Homo sapiens: one gene and its partner. The protein of the gene in region 1 purifies or fractionates together with the protein of each later gene. This does not show direct contact. Each region holds a gene or a part of one and is shown on either strand. Other genes may lie near its edges. The genes, in order: LYRM4 and KLHL22.

Region 1 (7,289 bases):
ATAATATAGGCCACGTTTTGATAGCAGGAGCCCTGTCTGCTCCTCCAGTCTCAGCCTAAGTCCCACATGTGCATCCTGTCCTCTGTCATCATCAGTTGCAGTTTCCTAAATGTGCCACGTCCTGTTGGGCCTCCAGGCCTTTACAAGTACTGTTCTATCCAGCAGGCCCTTTATCACTCCTGTCTAGAGTGCCCCCTCTTCCTTCAAGATTGAGCTCAATTGTCACCTTCTCTGAACAAAAGTTTTCCCAACTCTCTTCATCCCACAGCTTCCACTCCCATCCCTCCCACCAGCCAAACAGGTCTCATTGCTGTGTGTCATTCTTTTACCTCAGTGCTTCTACAAAACATCTCTGAAGCATGCTTTGCCCAGTGCTATATCACAGCTATCCCCAACCTTCTTGGCACCAGGAACCAATTTCATGGAAGACAGTTTTTCCATGGACCGGGTCAAGGGAGGGGATGGTTTCGGGATGAAACTCTTCCACCTCAGATCATCAGGCATTAGATTCTCATAAGGAGCATGCAACCTAGATCACTCACATGCACAGTTCACAATAGGTGCACCTATGAGAATCTAATGCCGCCGCTGATCTGACAGGAGATGGAGCTCAGGCCATAATGCGCACTCACCCACCGCTCAACTGCTGTGTGGCCCGGTTCCTAACAGGCCACGGACCAGTACTGATGGGTTGGGGACCCCTGCTATACCAAGCCCTGGAGAGAGAAAGATGAGATTTTTGAACTAAGCTAGGCACCTGTTATCAATGGCTTTACAGGCCTATGTGGGACACAGGTACAGAGATAGTTGTCACAGACTGGGTTAAGTGCTGTGACAGAAGGATGTACAAGGTGTGGAATCTAGAAGGCCTCCCAAGGGGTGATGTTGGATCAAAGGCATGAAGCAGCTTGGTGTGGTCAGGCAGGCAAACAGCACAGCACTGCCAGGGAGGTAAGTATGATGGGGTTGGGGGGGCGGTGACAGGAAGGCACTGAGGTTGGAGAGGGCCACTGATTTGAGGGCCTGGGGGCCGTGCTGAGGACCCTGGACTTTACCCTTAGCTCACAGGCAGCCACTAACCTGACATGACCAGATTTGCATTTTCTGATAGATCACTCTGGCAGCAGTGTAGAAGATGATTTTGAGGGGCCAAGGACATCAAATGGGAGTTGATTACAACAGTGCAGAGTAGAGATTAGGACGCTAGTAAGGACAGGAATAGTGGAAGATAGAGAAGAATGTTGTATTTGATAAATCATTAGAAGGGAAAATTGTTGGAACTGGAATGATTGGATTGAGGACTAAGGAAGAAGAGAATCCAAGCAGAGTCTAGAATGGCATCCAGGTTTCTGGTTAAGCTAAAGCACAGAGAGGGTGAATTTAAACTTGCACCATTAACTGACTCAGGTAATACAGAACTAGCTGGTCTTGTGGAGAGAGGGTTTTTTAGTTCATATTTAGGGTATCTTGGGTGTAAATTTCCCCTGGGATGCCCAGCAGAGGTAGTTAATCACAGGGCTCTGAAGCTCAGAGGAGTGATGAGCACTGCAGTAGTCAGCACCACCAACTCTGTGTGACCCCACGCAAGTCACATCACTCTCTGTTCTGCAGTTTCTTTATAAAATGAGAGTCATAATTGATCCATCTCACACAGTGTAAAAGGGTCCTGAGACCAATAAGTTTAAGAACCACATTCTTTTTTTTTTTTTTTTTTTTTTTTTTTTTTTTTTTTTTTCCAGTTGAAATCTTGCCCTTGTTGCCCAGGCTGGAGGGCAATGGTGCGATCTTGGCTCACTGCAACCTCCACCTCCCAGGTTCAAGCAATTCTTCTGCCTCAGCCTCCCGAGTAGCTGGGATTACAGGTGCCTGCCACTACGCCTGGCTAATTTCTGTATTTTTAGTAGAGGCGGGGTTTCACCATATTGGCCAGGCTGATCTTGAACTCCTGACCTAAGGTGATCCGCCCACCTCGGCCTCCCAAAGTGCTGGGATTACAGGCATGAGCCACCGCGCCTGGCCAAGAACCACATTCTTAAATTTTGTCTTCTTGGCTCTTCTTCAGCCAACTCCTTCAATTCTGATGTTCCCTAGAATAGCATCCGTAGCCACTAATTTTCTCACCTTAAACTAGGATTTCTCAATCTTGGCATGACCAACCTTTTGGGCCAGCTAATTCTTTGTTAATGGGGGCTGTAGTCGGCACCACTGTGGTGAGTTAATACACATCAAGTACTTAGGATAGTCCCTGGTGCAGAATAGGTACTTGATAAGTGGAATTATCATCATAAGTCAAATTAAAACCTAGATATTAGATGAATTATCTAGGAATACTATTTAGGTTAGTAGTTCTCATCCTGGGGTGATTTTATTTGACAATATCTGAAGACGTTTTTGGTTGCCACAACTTGGAAAGGGGGTGCTAGGCATCTGAGGCCAGGGATGCACAGGGGACAACCCCCATTAACAAAGAATTAGCTGGCCCAAAAGTTTGGTCATGCCAAGATTGAGAAATCCTAGTTTAAGGTGAGAAAATTCGTGGCTACGGATGCTATTCTAGGGAACATCAAAATTGAAGTAGTTGGCTGAAGAAGAGCCAAGAAGACAAAGTTTAAGAATGTGGTTCTTCAACTTAACTGGTCTTAGGCCTTTTACGTTCTTAAATATTACTGAGGACCCCAAAAAGCTTTCATTTATGTGGGACGCATTTATCATATTAGAAAAAAAAAGCTTTTAAAAACACCTATTTTAAAGTGACTAAATCCATTATGTTAAATAACACTTTTATGAAGAATAACCATTTTTCCTCCCCCTAAATCAGCAGATTGATAGTTTGACACTAGTGCAAGTCTCTTTCATGTTTGGCTTAATAGAAGACAACTGGGTGCTTATATTTGTTGCTATCTACAATTTGTTGCTATATCACATATCACTTAGTGTCTAGTAATTTCCCCTGTATACTCATGAGAGAATGCAGATGTCTTCCTGATAACTATGAAAATAGTTTTCCTGGTGGATCCCCTGAAAGGTCTCAGAGACCCCCGCCATGGTCCCTTGGCTAACTACTGTAGGGTTGAAGAAATGGGAGGAGATCAAGTAAAGAGTAGTGTTGCAGAAGTCAAGATAGTCATATGTTTGGGGAAGGTAGCTGTGGTCAGCAGGGTGGCTTGTCTAAGCAATATCCAGTTCATAAAGAGGGCAATGTAGAGCCTCTGGTACCATTACCAGAGCAGCATTGTTAGTCAAGTGGTTATGGCAGAACCCAGATTGTGGGGGTTGAGACATGAATCAGAAGTGCGTAAATTGCTGCCGTGAGTAGAGATACCCCCTCCACCTCCCACCGGAATTTTGGTTAATAAAACATGAGAGTAGATAACCGATAGAGCAGGACCCCACGAGAGGTGAAAAGTGGTACCTGAGAGCACAGCTGGTGGGGTTGGTCTTGGACAGAATGAACGGTATTTCATTTTACATGAGTGGAATGAAGGAGAAGAGGGCAAGTTGGAGTATGAGAGGGTGGAAAGTTGAGTTTATTTGTGCCAAGCCTGACAGCCAGTTTCTGGGTTAAGCGGGAGATAAGCAGATGTTGAGGAAGCACCTGTTCTTACCTTTGTTAGGGCACATATCACACATACACAGTTACCAGAAATTCTGTCTTATCTCTATTCCTAGTGCTTAGCATAGTACCTAGGTAGCAAGTTGGTGCAAAAGTAATTGCGGTTTTGGGCCATGAATTTTAAATTATTATAACTAGGATCAAATATATCTTTATTAATCAAAATAGGAACTATTACAATCAACATGTTTTTGCCAACAAGAAATAAGTTTATTCCTGTGGCGTAAAAATCCGTGCTTCGGGATTCTACAAACTCTTGGAAAGCATTTTCTTCATCCTGCTAGTCAAGGAAGCGTTTTCCCTACAAAAAGTTGTCGAGATGCTTCAAGAAGTGGAAGTTGGTTAGCGAGAAGTCAGATGAATATGGCGGATGAGGCCAATTCGTTCAACTTGTGAAGCGTTGGTTTTGTGACATGCAGTCAAGGGTCATTATGGAGACAGTTGGGCCGTTTCTGTTGACCAGTGCTGGCTGCAGGCATTGCCGTTTTCAGTGCATCTCATGGATTTGCTGAGCATACTTCTCAGATGAAACAGTTTTGCCGGGATTCAAGAAGCTCTAGTGGAGCAGACAACCAAACAGTGAGCATGACCTTTTTTTGATGCAAGTTTGGCTTTGGGAAGTGCTTTGGAGCTTCTTGGTCCAGCCACTGAGCTGGTCATCACCAGTTGTCACATAAAATCCACTTTTCATCACACATCACAATCTGATCGAGAAATGGTTCATTGTTGCATGGAATAAGAGAAGACAACACTTCAAAACGATGGTTTTTTTTTTTTTTTGCTCAGCATGAGGCACCCACTTATTGAGGTTTTTCACATTTGCATTTTGCTTCAGATCGAACGACCATCGAATGGTCAACATTGAGTTCTTTGGCAACTTCTCGAGTATTGTAAGAGGATCAGTTTCCATGATTGCTCTCAATTGGTCGGTGACAACTTCCAATGGCCGGCGACTAGGCTCCTCATCTTCAAGGCTCTCGTCTCCTTTGCAAAACTTCTTGAACCACCACAGCACTGTACCTTTGTTAGCAGTTCCTAGGCCAAATGAGTTGTCGCAAGTTGTCGCTGCAGCTTTTTGACCAATTTTGAGCTCAAATAAGAAAATTGCTGAAATTTACTTTTTGTCTAACATTATTTCCATAGTGTAAAATAAACATAAACAGCAAGTCATTAGCAAAAAAAAAAACTGAGAATTGCCCATTAAAATGATGTATAACATAACCACATTTATTTAAGAATTTATTCCAGTATCAAACAGCAAATTCCAGCAATGCAAAAACTGCATTCCTTTTGCACCAACATAATAAATATTCATTGTTGAAATGCAAGAGAAAATTATATTCAATGTATCCCTCTTATAGCTTAAGAAATATGTTATTGTAAAACTTGAGAAAAGGCTAAAGTGATGCCCAAATGCATACCAAGTGTAGTGTCAGAACTCCCTAATTCTTCATCAGATATTTGAGTTTTTATTAATGTGTTATACACTAAGCATTGTGCAAAGAGCTTCAGATCAAAATGAGCCTCCTATTAAGGGTAAAACATTACAAGCTCCTAAAGAAGTTTATCAATGAAGTACAAAGGAAAGGCCATAGAAAGGAGCTGGTCTCCTAAGTGCCACCTTAAAATTAGGAATGCTTTTGACCAGAAGTCATAGGAAGCCCTTACACAGGGCTTAATTGGGGGCTTATTCTTCTCACATAGGAAAGGTCTAGAGGTATGTAGCTGCCAGAGCTTATTTAGCAGCTAGAAAATGTCAAGGTATGTGTGAGTCTCGGTGTTCCTCTCATGCTTATGCCTGATGGTTGCAAACAGCTTTTGAAGCTCCAAATACATCCTTATTTAGTCAGGAAGAAGAAGGGCAGTCACAGCCAGGAAAGGGTAAAGCTTTCCAGGAGGACTCTGCTTTTGCTCATTGACCAAAACTTCATTACGTTTATATCACTAGGTAAACAACAGGCTGGAAAATTAGGATACAGCTATTCTAGCATCTCTAGTGAAAAGACAGCAGAGAGAAAACGGTGGGAAGAACTATTGATTAGGCAACAGTCTGTGTCAGCCACAGAGGTGGACATGCGATGGAAGAGCATTCCAGGCAAAGACAGTAAGGCATGTGAAAAGTAAAATGCAAGGCGTGTGTCAGAACCAGACGTGGGTAATTGTGGCTGAAGTGTTGGACTGAGCTAAATGTCATGATGTTAAATGCTAGGTAAAATCCCCAGTAAGTAACGAAATAGGTTTCAAGGCAGAGTGAGGCATAGAGAGGAGAAGCAACTTGATTGGTCTCACAGTTGGTCAAGGGCAGAATGGGATTAGAAGGCCGCCTCGCTCCCCGTGGGCTGCCGCTTCCACAACCCCATTCTTTTCAGAAGAAAATTCCTGCACCCATGCATCCTGTGAATAAGCCTGCAAAATCTGTAGAAACATCAACCTGGAGAAGTTTATTTTCACAGTTCCTCCTTATAGGTGAAATGGTTAAACAGGCTCCCTAGTTTCATGAGTGGTAAAATTCCTAAGTCCTGATCAACCTAAGTGCTGATCAACGTCAGGTCTCGCTTACTATGTACTACACAACTGAATGAAACACTGATATCTGTGATTGCTGTCTTAATGAAGGAACCAAATAATGATTCGTGTTTAGGAATCTGTTTTCTTTTTGAGCCATTGGAACTCTTTAATATATTACCAGTCGCAATCCAGATTTATTGGCAAGCTGAGGAATTAGAACCATGAGCTCCTGGAGTGGGAACCAGGCAGCCCTCTCACTCATCAAAGGATTTCTTTCACATGTTTTCCTTGTTGCGGATCTTTTAACAGTGACTGCCTCTTCCACCCTATGTGTCACTGATTGATCAAGAAGGCTAGCATGCAATGATACAGTTTGGATGTTGTCTCCACCCAGATCTCATGCTGAAATGCAATCCCCCGTGTTGGAGGTGGGGCCTGGTGGGAAGTAATTGGATCATGGGGGCAGGTTTCTCATGAATAGTTTAGCACCATTCCCCTTGGTACTGTCCTCACAATAATGAGTGAGTTCTCATGAGATCCGGTTGTTTTAAAGTATGTGGCATCTCCTTCCTCGCTTGCTTGCTCCTGCTCTGGCCTGTGATGTGTCTGCTCCCCCTTCACCTTCTGCCATGATTGTAAGCTTCCTGAGGCCTCCCCAAAAGCTGAGCAGATGCCAGCATCACAATTCCTGTACAGCCTGCAGAACTGTGAGCCAATTAAACCTCTTTTCTTCATAAATTAGCCAGTCAATGTGAGAACAGACTAATTCAAATACCACCCTAATATGAATAGTATTAACAAGCACCTTTCACTTTGTAAAACAGGGCAGCTACAGTGAAAGCCTTCATGCCAAATATTCTTCTGGAGACAAATCAACAAATCCATTTCTTCCTAATATTTCTTGAAAACTCACAGTGTGTGTGTGTGTATGTATATATTACCACACTAGAACCTAGTAATAGGTGGAATCAAACACAAGATGGCCCTGCTGTCACAAGATTGTAGTATGGTTGCGCATATGCAATGTACATATAAGGACGGCTCAAGAAACTTACAGAGGAAGCATGCAAATTGAAATAGTGCCCGAACAGTGGAGATTTGCAGAATGTACTGGGGCTGAGGAGACACCTTGCATAATGATGTTTTGGCTGTCATATATCGTATTACA
Region 2 (7,289 bases), on another chromosome or scaffold:
TGCATCTGACTCTGAAGTTCAGGCCTCAGATGAAACTTCTTTGCTTCATCAACCAGATCCCTGCATTGTAAACCATAGTGGATGAAAGGCTCAGCATCTATTACATCTGTGATATACCTGAGGGTTAGCAGGGGCATCTGCATATACTGTAGCAGGCTGGGCAAGGAGTCTTTCTGCTCTTTCTTGGCATGCTTCACCCAACTGATGACAGCCTCAAAGACTGGTTCTTCAGGATCCACCTGAATTTCATCGCACTTGATTAGCTTTTCCACCTCTCCTTGCCTCAGAAGAATGAACTCTTCATGCTGTACCACTTCAGGAAAATTCTTCTGGCTAAAAACCTCAGCTGCTTGTGTCAGGTCAACACAATTGTGGGTTTCAGCAAAATCCCTAATACCCAGGCAATTAGAAGGGTCCAACTGACTTTCTAAGAACTCACAGCAGGCTTGTTTCACACCTTTCAACTGAAGCAGACAGGCTGCAGGAAGCAGTTCCTGTACATTCTCCATGTCACATGTACTGTTTCCGTGTACACAAAGTCCAATAAAATTTCCATGGTAGAGGCAGTCAAACCTTGGATGTCAACATAGGGTTTCCCCTTCTATAAAGGTCACTAGTGAACATGGCACAGAAGTAATCACTACAGGCAGCCAGCACAATCTCATGGGCAGGAAAGTCTTTCTGCTCTACTCAATGTCACATCACAGAAGGTATTGCTCTTCCCAACGGAGTTCATTGAACTGAGGATTGATTTAGCATGAGTATTTGTCATTATGTCTTTGGGGGCCATAATGCCTCCCATAAAGCAGTGCGGAGAAAGAACAAAAATAGGTCCTTGGATTCTGCAACTCTGCTTCTGATCCCACACAGCCGCGCCAGGGCCTGTCCCCAGCCTGTGGGGATGGAGTGGGGTGCGGGTCCAGCAGGTGGCTCAGGAGGAGCCGAAGCGTCGCCGCCGCCGCCCCGGCCCGGAGGCTCTGGAGCTGTCCGGGTCTGCTCCCTGCGGCCACGCGACGTGATGACCAGAAGAAAATCTTGAGGATCTAGCTAGGGCTAGGCAAGGAATTCTTAGACTTGACCCCAAAAGCATGAGCCATAAAAAGAAAAATTGATAAGCTGGACTTCATCAAAATTAAAAAATATTTGCAAACCACCTATCTGACAAAGGACTAGTATTAAATAAATACATATATAAACAACTCTTAAAACTCAATAAACGGCCAGGTGTGGTGGCTCACACCTGTAATCCCAGCACTTTGAAAGGCTGAAGTGAGCGGATCACGAGGTCAGGAGTTCGAGACCAGAGACCAGCCTGGCCAACATGGTGAAACCCCATCTCTACTAAAACTACAAAAATTAGTTGGGCGCGGTGGCACACGCCTGTAATCCCAGCTACTTGGGAGGCTGAGGCAGGAGAATTGCTTGAACCTGGGAGGCAGAGGTTGCAGTGAGCCGAGACCGTGCCTTTGCACTCCAGCCTGGGCGACAGAGTGAGACTCCATCTCAAAAACAAAAAACCTTGGCAAAATACTGCAAATAACCCCATTAAAAAGAGGGCAAAAGAAGCCGGGCACGGTGGCTCACACCTGTAATCCCAGCACTTTGGGAGGCCAAGGTGGGTGGATCACGAGGTCAGGAGATTGAGACCATCCTGGCTAACACGGTGAAACCCCATCTCTACTAAAAATACAAAAAATTAGCTGGATGTGGTGGCGGACGTCTATAGTCCCAGCTACTTGGGAGGCTGAGGCAGGAGAATGGTGTGAACCCAGGAGGCAGAGGGTGCAGTGAGCTGAGATTGTGCCACTGCACTCCAGCCTGGGCGACACGGCAAGACTCTGTCTCAAAAAAAAACAAACAAAACAAAACAAAACAAAACAAAAAACAGAAGGCAAAAGAGTTGAAGAAACATTTCACTGAAGAGGATGTATAGATGGCAAATAAGCATATAAGGAGATATGTAACATTATTAGCTATCAGGGAAATGCAAATTAAAGCCACAGTGAGAGAACTACCTCAGGATGACTAAAATAAAAAGTAGTGAAAATACGAAATACTGGTGACTGTGCAGGGAAACTATGCTCATGGATTGCTGATAGGAATGTGAAATGGTACAGCCACTCTGGAAAACAGATCTGGCAGTTACCATCCTGGGTATTTATCCCAGAGAAATGAAAACTACTCTGTATACGTTAGCCAGGCATGGTGATGCGTGCCTGTAATCCCAGCTACTCCGGAGGCTGAGGCACAAGAATTGCTTGAACCCGGGAGGCAGAGGTTGCAGTGAGCCAAGATTGTGCCACTATATTCCAGCATGGGCAATAGACCAAGACCCTGTCTCAAAAAAATAAAAAATAACTTATCTGTACATGAATGTTAATAGTAGCTTTATTGGTAATAGCCAGAAACTGGAAACAAATCAGGTGTTTTCAACAGTGAATGGTTAAACAAGCTGTGGTAGATACCCATGGAATACTACTGAGCAATAGAAAAGGAACCAACTATTGGTACATGTTGAGTACCCTTTATCTGAAATGCTGGGGACCAGAAGTGTTTTGGATTTCAGATTTTTTCAGATTTTGGAATCTTTGCATTATAGTTACTGGTTCAGCATTTCTTATCCAAAAGTCTGAAATGCATTTCCTTTGAGTGCCGTGTTTGTGCTCAAAAAGTCTCAGATTTTGGAGGTACTCAACCTGTACATGCAACAACCTGGTAGAACCTGGGTTGGGGTAGAAAGCCAATGTCAAAAGGTTGTATACTGATTTAATTCAGACAACACTCTTGAAGTTACAAAACTGTAGAAATAGAGAAGAGATTGGTGGTTTCCAGGGCTTAAGGAAGGGATTAGGGTAAGGGAGGTGAGTGGATGTCACCCTAAAGGGCAGCCCCTCGGGATCCTGGTGGTGATAGGACAGTTCTGTGGCTGTGTCCACGTCAGCATCCTGGTGACCCTGTGATATAGTGACACAGGCTCCTACCATGGGGGAAAGAAGGCACGTGAGACCTCTGTATTTTTACTTCCAACTACACGTGACTACACTTATCTCAAAATGAAAAGTTTAATTAAAAAGAAAAACCTCGGCTGGGCGTGGTGGCTCATGCCTATAATCCTAGCACTTTGGAAGGCCGAGGCAGGTGGGTCACGAGGTCAGGAGATCGAGACCATCCTGGCCAACATGGTGAAACCCTGTCTCTATTAAAAATACAAAAGTTAGCTGGGTATGGTGGCGGGCGCCTATAATCCCAGCTACTCGGGAAGCTGAGGCAGGAGAATCATTCGAACCCGGGAGGCGGAGATTGCAGTGAGCCGAGATCGTGCCACTGCACTCCGGCCTGGTGACAGAGCGAGACTCCGTCTCAAAAAAAAAAAAAAAAAGAAAAACCTCCCCAGACCCCTACTGGTGATAGGAGAAGACCCAAACCAAACCCTTGGTGTGTGTTCTTCCTCCCCACTGCTCCGTCCACCTCTCTAGACTCTTGTGTTTTTGCCACCCGCATGGCCTCAGTGTTAGTGACTTGCCCAGTAACATAGCTCTGGAGCCTCCACACCCTGAGGGGCTCCTCTACCCTCAAAACACCCAGGGCCTTGCCTTGGGGCCTTCTGTTGGCCTGCTGGGTGTGAGTGGGTGGGTTCCGGAAGTGGTAGGGCCAGGGTAAGAGGTGCCCATGATGGGGGCAGGCTGGGCCCTATGGAGATAGCCCAACAGAGGGAGGGTAAAAAGCCCACAGAAGGTTCAGGACCAGAATCAAGAACCATGTGTATTTTTCTCCCCACATCATGAGTTTAGTGTCAGATATTATTTACAAACATTTTAAAAGCAGGGTCAGCAGGCCCGGAGGATTGCATGTCCAGTGGGAGTGGGGGAGGGGTGGAGGCCACTGAGGGTGGGTCAGCGGTCCCCAGGGTTCTGTGGCTTCTTCCAGACTGGCTTGGAAAAAATGCTTTTATTTTCTTGGAGTTCCCCCATGCAGATGTTAACTTTAGGAGCAAAGGAAAGACAAAGGCTACATTTCATTTCTGAGTCTATAGATGTATCCGCTATTGGGAAGAGGTTAGAGGTCAATGACTAGGACAGTATGTCCCATGAGAATCGAGGGAGGATTCTTGTCTGTATGTGAGTGGGAAGTGGTGAAGCCTCACAGCGTTGTCAGGCAGGTGTGGGGTGGTGATTGGCCTTGACAGAGTACCCAGCCACCCTTCCTCACTGCCCTCTCACGCCATTTCTCCTGGTGGCTCCACACAGGTGTATGCCCACGCAGGCGCGACGCTGGAGGGGAAGATGTATATCACCTGCGGCCGCAGAGGGGAGGATTACCTGAAAGAGACACACTGCTACGATCCAGGCAGCAACACTTGGCACACACTGGCTGATGGGCCTGTGCGGCGCGCCTGGCACGGCATGGCAACCCTCCTCAACAAGCTGTATGTGATCGGGGGCAGCAACAACGATGCCGGATACAGGAGGGACGTGCACCAGGTGAGTGGGGCCCGGGGCAGTCCACACCCGTCATCATTCCCAAGCCTCTCAGTTGTTATTGATGGAAAATGTAATTGAATCATGTGCCTTTTAAAAATAGACTATTTTTTAGAGCAGTTTTAGGTTCACAGCAAAATTAAGTGGAAGGTACAGTTTCCATACACCCCCTTTTCCCCCCATACACATATAGCCTCCCCACTGCAGACCTCTCGCTCCAGAGGGGTGGATGTGTCACAGTTGTTGAAACTGCATTGATGCATCACCATCAACCAGAGTCCACAGTGTTCACTCTTGGCACATTCTATAGGTTTGGACAAATGTCACCATGACAGTATCACACACATACACATCTACCTTTGCTTATTACTCTTAAAAACTTTTAGGCCGGATGTGGTGGCACATGCCTGTAATCCAAGCAGTTTGGGAAGCCAAGGCGAGAGGATCACTTGAGCTCAGGAGCTTGAGACCAGCCTGGGCATCATGGCAAAACCCCATCTCTACAAAAATACAAAAATTAGCCAGGTGTGGTTGCATGCCTGTACTCTCAGCTACTTGGGAGGCTGAGGTTGGGGGATGGCTTGAGCCCAGGAGGCAGAGGTTTCAGTAAGCTGAGATCACGCCACTGCACTCCAGCCTGGGCGACAGAGCCAGGCCTTGTCTCAAAAAAAACAAAAAAAAACAACAACAAAACTTTTAGATCCAGGCTGGCAGCACATACCTGTAGTCCCAGCTACTCAGGAGGCTGAAGTGGGAGGATTGTTTCAGCCCAGAGTTGGAGGCTTCACTGAGCTATGATCACACCGCTGTTCCCCAGCCTAGGTGACAGAATGAGACCCTGTCTCTATTCAAAACAAAATAAAACAAAACAACAGAACAAAACTTTTATTATAAAGTTAATATAACCACATTGCCGGAACTTTAAAAAATAGAGATGGGTGGCCGGGCGCGGTGGCTCACGCCTGTAATCCCAGCACTTTGGGAGGTTGAGGCAGGTGGATCACGAGGTCAGGAGTTCAAGACCAGCTTGGCCAAGATGGTGAAACTCCATCTCTACTAAAAATACAAAAATTAGCCAGGTGCGGTGATGGGCGCCTGTAATCCCAGTTACTTGGGAAGACTGAGGCAGGAGAATCGCTGGAACCCGGGAGGCAGAGGTTGCAGTGAGCTGAGATCACACGACTGCACTCCAGCCTGGGCAACAGAGCAAGACTCCATCTCAAAAAAAAAAAAAAAATAGAGAAGGGTGAGGAAAAGCATTCATAATCAGGCCCCTGCAGTACTGTTTTTCAGTATGACCATTTTCAGCATTGACCGTGTATGTTTTCTGCCTGATTGTAGTCAAAGAGCATCCCATTCTGAGCTGGGCACAGTGGCTCACACCCGTAATCCCTGCATTTTGGGAAGCCAAGGCAGGTGGATGGCTTGAGTCCAGGAACTGATACCAGCCTGGGCAACATGGTGAAACTCCATCTCTACTAAAAATACAAAAAAAAATTAGCCAGGCATGGTGGCTTGCACCTGTGGTCCCAGCTACTTGGGAGGCTGAGGGAGAATCAACTGAGCCCAGGAGGTTGAGGCTGCAGTGAACCGTGATGGTGCCACTGCACTCCAGCCTGGGCAACAGAGCGAGACCTTGTCTCAAACAAACAAACAAACAAACAAAAAAGAGCATCCCATATCCCATTCTGCTTCTCTCAGTGACTTTTGTCCTGGGCATTTTCCAGATTAACACTCAATCTTCATCATCCCCTCTTGTGTCTAAGTTTTAACTATTCCAAATAACATGACAAGTAATAGTTGCTTTGTTGAGCTTTTCAGGTATTTTGGATTATTTCCTTAGGTTCATGCAACAGTTCTCAAAGTGTGATTCTCAGACTAACAGAGTCTGCATCACCTGGGAACGCTGTGTTACGAGGCACCTCAGACCCACTGATTCGGAAGCCCTGAGGGTGGGTCTTGGCGATCTGGCTTTTAACAGGTCCTCTGCTTGTGAGATCCTCTGGGCCAGCACATTAGTTTTCTATTGCTTCAGTAACCTATCACCACAAACATAGCAACTTAAGATAAATTTATTCTGCATTCATAAGTCCTCTGACATGGGCCTTGCCAGGCTAAAACCAGGGTGCGGTCAGGGCATCTTTCCTTTGTGGAGACCCTAGTGGGGATCTGCCTCCCTGCTCACTCTGGTTAGAAGAATTCAGTCCCTGGCAGTTGCAGTCCCATTTCCTTGCTAGCTGTCAGTTGAGGGCCTTCTTGGCTTCTAGAGGTCCCCACTTTTCCTGGCTTGGGGACACTTCGTCTTCAAAGCCAGCAATGGCAGGTTGAGTCCTCCTCACTTCTCAGCTCTCTTGTCTGGCTTTACCCTTCCTTTTTTTCTTTTTTTTTTTTTTATGAGATGGAGTCTTGCTTTGTCACCCAGGCTGGGGGGCACTGGTGCAGTCTCAGCTCACTGCAACCTCTGCCTCCTGGGTTTAAGCGATTCTCCTGCTTCAGCCTCCGGAGTAGCTAGGAGGACTACAGGTGTTCGCCACCACACCTAGCTAATTTTTCTATTTTTAGTAGAGACGGGGTTTTGCCATGTCGGCCAGGCTGGTCTCAAACTCCTGACCTCAGGTGATCCACGCACCTCAGCCTCCCAAAGTGCTAGGATTACAGGCGTGAGCCACCACCCCCGGCCTCCCCTTCCACTTTTTTTGTTTGTTTGTTTGAGACAGAGTCTCGCTCTGTCGCCAGGCTGGAGTGCAGTGGTGCTCTTGGCTCACTGCACCCTTTGCCTCCTGGGTTCAAGTGATTCTCCTGCCTCAGCCT

What was found.
Region 2: the proteins of LYRM4 (region 1) and KLHL22 purify together in Homo sapiens (affinity purification with mass spectrometry; 2 studies listed by BioGRID and IntAct, with this or other methods). This does not show direct contact.

Annotation. Positions count from the first base shown.
Region 1 is NC_000006.12:5,250,938-5,258,226, reverse strand, and holds part of LYRM4 (LYR motif-containing protein 4), read left to right. Parts: intron 1-7,289.
Region 2 is NC_000022.11:20,443,635-20,450,923, reverse strand, and holds part of KLHL22 (kelch-like protein 22), read left to right. Parts: intron 1-4,247; coding exon 4,248-4,481; intron 4,482-7,289. UniProt on the Homo sapiens protein: Substrate-specific adapter of a BCR (BTB-CUL3-RBX1) E3 ubiquitin ligase complex required for chromosome alignment and localization of PLK1 at kinetochores.